2 linked regions of the Homo sapiens genome follow. The protein of the gene in region 1 purifies or fractionates together with the protein of each later gene. This does not show direct contact. Each region holds a gene or a part of one and is shown in the gene's direction. Other genes may lie near its edges.

Region 1 (3,655 bases):
TGAGGCACAAGAATTGCTTGAACCCAGGAGGCAGAGGTTGCAGGGAGCCGAGATCTTACCACATCACTCCAGCCTGGGCGACAGAGCAAGACTCTGTATCAAAAATTAAACAACAACAAAAAAGATATATTTGAGGACTGAAAAAGCCTTTAAGGTGCAGGATAATCTGTGGTGGCATTTCACTCCATCAGACCAGACAGAGGAGGTGAGGACTAGGGAATTGGGTCTTTCCCTGGGGGCCTCAAATCATAACAGGTAGGAGACCCCATCTTTGCTACACACAAAGGCAACCTTGCATCTGATTAAAGCAGAATATCATGGAAGGAGGGTTTCTTGACCCTGCATCATGACTGTGTTCATAGCAGCACTCCAGGGTTGACCAGTTATGGTTTCTGCGCGGCAGGAATCTGCCATTCTTTGCCTATAAAACTGACAGTGGCCTGGCCTTTCCCACTCTGAATTGGATTGCTTAGGACTTTTTGTTTGTTTGTTCATTGTATTCTCTTTGTTAGGTTGGTTGGTGGCTGATTTTGCCCTTAAATCTATTTTGTCATGCTTGCCTGTATTGAACCTCATAGAATGTTTTGAAGAATTTCGTTTTCCAATTTGCTGAGTTATTTTAATTCTTATTCCACTGAGCCTTTAAATGTACAAGTAGTTTTATCTCTTGATAAAAATTAAAGTGACCCTGGGCCGAGTGCAGTGATTCATGCCTGTAATCCTAGCATTTTGGGAGGCCAAGGCGGGTGGGTCATCCGAGGTCAGGCGCTGGAGACCAGCCTGGCCAACATGGTGAAACCCTGTCTTTACTAAAATTACAAAAAGTATCCAGGCATGGTGGCACATGCCTGTAGTCCCAGCTACTTGGGAGGCTGAGGCCAGAGAATCACTTGAATTCAGGTGGCCTAGGTTGCAATGAGCTGAGATCCTACCATTTCACTCTAGCCTGGGCTACAGAGCAAGACTCTGTCTAAAAAATAAATCAATAAATAAATAAATAAATAAAAATAAGCCTGGGCAACATGGCAAAATCCAGTCTCTACAAAAAGATACAAAAAAAAAGTAGCTGGGCATGGTGGCACATGCCTGTAGTCTCAGCTACTTGGGAGGCTGAGGTGGGAGGATCACCTGACCCTCAGAAATCGAGGATGCAGTGAGCCATGATCATGCTTCTGCATTCCAGCCCAGGCGATAGAGTGAGACTGTGTCAAAAAAAAAAATTTTTTTTTATTAAATTGAGCCAAAGCACCAGACTTAAGTTATTGATTTAATTTCCTGTCTTTGGTAAAATTCTTTGGGAGACTTTACAAAGGAATTACTCAGAAGAAGTTTAGATGGTCACACATGGCTGAAAGGTCTCCCAGGACCACGCTTTTGCAGCTCTTTCATACCTGGTGTTCACTCTTATGGAAGATTCATTTAAAGATGGATTGTAGTTAGGGTGAGTCTAGTTTCTTAGGATTTTTGGTGATGATCTCTGATATTGAAAAAGTGGTATGGTTATCTTAGTCCCTGGATCATCCAGATCTTTCTAATAAGTTGATGTTCTCCAAGTACTATAAGAAAATCACCCAGCCTGGGCAACATGTTAGCCAAGAATGGTGGAAAATGCCTGTAATCCTAGCTAGTTGGGAGACTGAAGCAGGAGGATCTCTTGAGCCCAGGAGTACAAGGCACAGTGAGCTATGATTTTGCCACTGCACTCCAACCTGGACAGCAGAGCTAAAACCCTGTCCCTAAAACAACAAAAGCAATACTGCCTAATGGATGGAGCCTCTGGGAGGTAAACAGTGTGAATTAGGATTAGAGTTGGATTTGCAGGCTAGATCTGTCAAGTCTCCTAAAAACCATCACCTCCTATGGGTGGTAGAAAGCGGTGGTTATGTGAAGTTCTGAACTAGACAGAAGGGTCAATGTCTTTGGATCAAAAGGTTTCTTAGGATTCTGCCCGCCTGGCAGACTTTCGTCCTTCTCGTTATTATTCTAGAGCTTCTGGAAGCTGAGGTCTACTGAGAAGTCGTCCCAGAAGCAGAAAGTGAAATCCAAAACCTGCCTGTTTGAAGTTGGAGTCGACACACCCATCTCAAAGTGAGAAAATTAGTCTGGCAGGATAAATTGAACAAGCATTTATGGCAGACAGATAGATGCTTGGTGCTGTGATGGGGCCTATAGGTGGACCGCAAAGAAAAGGGTGCAATGGGATCCTTTCCTCTTAGAGAGCTCACAGTTTATGTGGCCCATTGGCCTGCTGGTGTTCTCCAACATCAATGTTCTTTCTTCCTTACCCTCATCCTTTTTTTCTTCCTTCCTATTTCTTGTTTCCTATCTCCCTCTTTTTTACCTTTACTTTCTAGCTTCACAGAAGAGATGCAATAGGCACAGAAGAGATGCAAAAGGCACTGACTTTTGCCTGAACCCTGATATCTCTCCACAGGACTAGGCTCTAAGCCCCTCATTTCAATGAGGGGCCATGAAGACGGGGGCATCCGGCTGGAGTGCATATCTAGAGGGTGGTACCCAAAGCCCCTCACAGTGTGGAGGGACCCCTACGGTGGGGTTGCGCCTGCCCTGAAAGAGGTCTCCATGCCTGATGCAGACGGCCTCTTCATGGTCACCACGGCTGTGATCATCAGAGACAAGTCTGTGAGGAACATGTCCTGCTCTATCAACAACACCCTGCTCGGCCAGAAGAAAGAAAGTGTCATTTTTATTCCAGGTTAGTTCTCTGCCCTCTGAGACTCGTCGAGTGCATGGGGGATCCTCAGCACACAGATGGAGCCCAGAACGGGGATGGGGGCAGCAGTGTGGGTGAAATAGTCCTGGGCCCTAAGGACCTGGAGGCTGCAGCTGAGTGAAGCCTTTCCGCTTCTCACAAAAGGAGAATCAAAGTGTCCCAAAACTCAGGAGTAGGAGCCTCTTCTCTGAGGGTAAACCTGTTTTTGTTGTTGTTGTTGTTGTTGTTGTTGTTTTTCCCCCCAATAAGGTCCTTACACTGCTGCAATTTTTTTTTAAGACAAGTTCTTGCTCTGTCACACAGGCTAGCATGCAGTGGCACAATCTTGGCTCACTGCAACCTCCTCCTCCCAGGTTCAAGCAATTCTCATACCTCAGCCTCCCGAAGGCTAGGACTACAGGCACACGCCACCACACCCGGCTAATTTTTGTATTTTTAGTAGAGATGGGGATTTCACCTTGTTGACCAGGCTGTTCTCGAACTCCTGACCTCAAGTGATCCACCTGCCTCAGCCTTCCAAAGTGCTAGGATTACAGGCGTGAGCCACCATACCCGGCCAGCAATTTTTAGACATTGAAAACAACCATAACATATGGAGGGTGGTGTGGATAAGTGACTCTCTACACTTGGTGTTCCTGTATGCTGTAGCCATCCCTTCCTGTGCAGGGGATTTTCCACAGGACAGAGCTGTGGAAATTCCCTATAGACACACACTCACAATTCATTCAACAAATGGTCAAGAAGCATATCGTATGTTCAAAACACTGTTCTACCAAGGGTAAATCATTGAACAAATTATATTAAGAACTCTTCCCTCAAAAAGTGATTAGTTAGCTAACCATATATTCTATCAGATGGTAATGAACATCTATAGGAAACATTAAGCAAGGAAGGAATAAAGAGGCAATGTGAGACATTGCA
Region 2 (3,655 bases), on another chromosome or scaffold:
TTGCCACTACGCCCAGCTGATTTTTGTATTTTTAGTAGAAACAGGGTTTCACCATGTTGGTCAGGCTGGTCTCGAACTCCTGACTTCGTGATCTGCCCGCCTCGGCCTCCCAAAGTGCTGGGATTACAGGCATGAGTCACCGTGTCCAGCCAAGTTACTCTTAATAAACAGTTGTCCTGGCTAAACACACACTGATGACCAGTGCCATCAACAGAGGACAGATGCCAGCTTTACAGTTTGAGAGTGTGTTTGCCTTTCGTATGAATAAATAGCTCAGGCATTTGATGCATCTTTTCCTTATTCAACAAATACTGATTGAACACTTTGATTCCATGTGTCAGTGTTTAAACTACTTGCTGCGTCTTTAGCTCTATCTCTTCTGCTGAATAAGAAATTGTAGAGAGATATTTCAGATTTTGCTAAATCAGTTTACAAGCTTTGTTCTTTATTTATCATTCCAAATTAAGCCAGAATAAAATATGTTTTTTAATTGCATTGACATAAACTAAGAAACCAATGGGAGTGATTTAGATTTTGAGAAATAGGAAATTAAAATAGAAACTTGGACTCATTTTCATCAACCTTACTGGTTCTAGGGAAGTCATTGTCATTACCTCTCTTGCTGATGATATTTGGAGCCATATCATCCTGTGTCCAGTAGTTACTTGAATTTTAATGGCCATTTTTGAAGCTGTCAGGGTCTTGAACAAATGACTAAGTGATTGTGAGGAAGCATGGCTCCTGCAACTCTACATCTAAGTAGGTTTTGACTTTGAAATAGCAAGTTCATATCTGTTAATTTCTTTATGATTTAGCATGTAAATACTTTCTAGCTGTGATTATGTCCCTTCACTCATTTTTAGAGTGTTTGTCATCAAATAGAGTCTTAGGGAACAGTAAGCATGAAGGGATATACACTCTATTCAAAGACTGCTGGAATCTCATTTGCTCATAATAAATTAATCAGAAAAACTTTCTTCTGTCTACTGTTACATTTTATGTTTTCTGGTAATTTACCAAACTTTGAAAGGATGAATAGGTGTAGAGCAATGAGAGTCTAATTAGGAAAAAGAGGTATGGAGACATTTTAAATGATTGACGTTCTGTAAGTCGTAATTTAGTTTTACTAAAAAGTCAGAGGCCCAAAAAGTTTAATTTTTTCATGAATGCCCTATTATAAGTAAACATTGAGATGTATATAATTATTAGGGGAGGAGGGCCAAAAGCATCCATCATGATGGAAGAAAGGACTATCAAAACGATTCTACCAGAATTCTATCCAGATTATGAACTCTAAGCAAGTATAACTTTTTTTTTAGTAATGACCTTAATTACTACTCTCAGTTTCCCAATATTATAAAATTGACTTGTTCTTTAAGAATCATTTAGATACATAAAGCTTTGTGGGAACCTATGTATGTAGAAACAACAGCTAGAGAGAGAGATTGAAATATTTTTGGTTCTCTTAAAAATTAATGTTTTATTTTTTTTCTTCTGATTCCAGCATCTTCACAACTATTTCACAGTGACTCTTGGAATTCCTGCTTGGTGTTCTTATGTCTTTTTCGTCATAGCCACCTTGGTTTTTGGCCTTTTTATGGGTCTGGTAAGAGATAATACCAAACTTTTTCTATCTTTAAGGCAAAATGAATTTCATGTACAAATAAAAGGCAGCCAAGAAAGAAAAAGCACATAAAAAATAGTATTTTGTGCAATCTAAGTAGTTAAATAGCATTTGCTTGTTTGAGACTGCTTTCAATGGTAATGTGAGATATAACAGAAAATTTATTAAATTCTTATCCCCTAATCCTATCCCTTAAGTATTTTGAAGATGTGTACTGCCTATAGACAGTAATTAAAAAAAAAAAAAAAAAGAGACCTTACTAGAATTGATAGTTTCTAAGACAACTGAGTCAGCTGTGATTTCACACATTGCCTGCTTAATTAGAAACACTGTAGTGATAAGGCCAAGGTTTTGAATTTGTTCCTTGTGTAGATGCAAGATTGTTGTTGTTGTTGTTCTTATCCTCCAGTTAAACTAATCCTGACTAGCCGCTTATGCATACACTCTGGTTTTCCTGAGATAGATAATGTAGTTAACACAACACAATTATTCTTTGGGCATGAAAATCAGTATGCAGTATATATCTCCCCAGGTATTTTCTCCCCAGGTATTTCAGGCAAGAGTTGAATAATAAATTTATTTATCTAACTACATAGGCAACTATAAATGTTCAGCATGTTGTACTTCTTGTTATTTTTTATTTCTCTTAACCTAATCTTGATTAGTTTGATTGCATTTTAAACCCTAATTAAACCAAAAAGTTTTTAAAAACCTTTATATTGTATACTAAACACATAGTTCCTAAACACTATAATGGGAATAATTGATGATTACTAAAAATTTATGTCAAAGAACAGACTTTAAGGTAAGATTATCTTAAAGTCTGTCCTTATATTTTATAATGAATTTTGGCTCTTTAGCAAGTTCTTTTTAAAAATGTTAACAATTGACTTATAGTAAGTCACAACCCCAAGAGGCCAAGGAGGCTCGATTTGACTTTTCTATGAACATGCTTAATACATATCATGGCTTATCTTTGAAACTTGGCTCCTGATGTTAACTTCAGGGATAAGAATGGGACTTACTTAGATATCTGTATATGTCCTTCATTAGGTCCTGGGTATGTTCTGTTCTGTTGCATTAATCTTTTTGCTAATTAACATGTCCCCATTGCTCCCGTCTAAAGGGATTTGACACCGGATATAAATAGAATGTGATTGTCTGTGCTTCTCCCATCTGTTGTCTGGTGCGAGATTTTTCTAGCAGTGTATTTTGGGGCTACCATAGTGTGAGGTTCTTGTAGGGGGAAACAGTATGAGGTCCCAGGCGAGTCAATGATGGAGTTATAGGGAATGTAGGTTGTGTGTGACCCTGTTGGAAGACTAGTGAAAATGCTTAGAGTTTTAGAATATTATTTTTGATGTTGACTTTAAGTCCATGAAATTGAGTCAGGCCTGCCTGCCTATGCCTTAGATTCCTTTGGAAACCTAGATTCAGATAATCAGTGTAGAAAGGTTATTGGAGGCTTGGCCTGAAGAAAGGAGAGAGTGATTCTAGCCTGTTCAAGTGATTAAGTGAGATAGACTACCCTTCCTTAATAAGAAAATAACTTTATTTAACAAAATATTATTAACTTTATTAACGAAATAATAATTTCAAAGCATATGAATCATAAATTATAAAAGATTCATACATTTACTGTTAATAAGTTTCCAAAAAATAACAAACACATATCTGTGTTCAAAGTACCTGTTTTAGGCTGGGCACAGTGGCTCAGGCCTGTAATCCTGGCACTCTGGGAGGCTGAGGCAGGTGGATCATTTGAGCCCAGGAGTTTGAGACCAGCCTTGGCAACATGGTAAAACCCTGTCTCTACAAAAATACAAAAATTAGCCTGGCATGGTGGCACACACCTGTAGTCCCAGCTACTCGGGAGGCTGAGGTGGGAGGATCACTTGAGCCCAGGAGTTCGAGGCTGCTGTGAGCCATAATCTTGCCACTGTACTCCAGCCTGGGTGACAGAGCTAGACCCTGTCTCAAAAAAAAAAAAAATATATATATATATATATATACACACACACACATATATAT

The links.
Region 2: the proteins of BTN2A1 (region 1) and TMX4 purify together in Homo sapiens (affinity purification with mass spectrometry; 3 studies listed by BioGRID and IntAct, with this or other methods). This does not show direct contact.

Annotation. Positions count from the first base shown.
Region 1 is NC_000006.12:26,460,810-26,464,464, forward strand, and holds part of BTN2A1 (butyrophilin subfamily 2 member A1 isoform 1 precursor), read left to right. Parts: intron 1-2,434; coding exon 2,435-2,716; intron 2,717-3,655.
Region 2 is NC_000020.11:7,985,239-7,988,893, reverse strand, and holds part of TMX4 (thioredoxin-related transmembrane protein 4 precursor), read left to right. Parts: intron 1-1,504; coding exon 1,505-1,606; intron 1,607-3,655.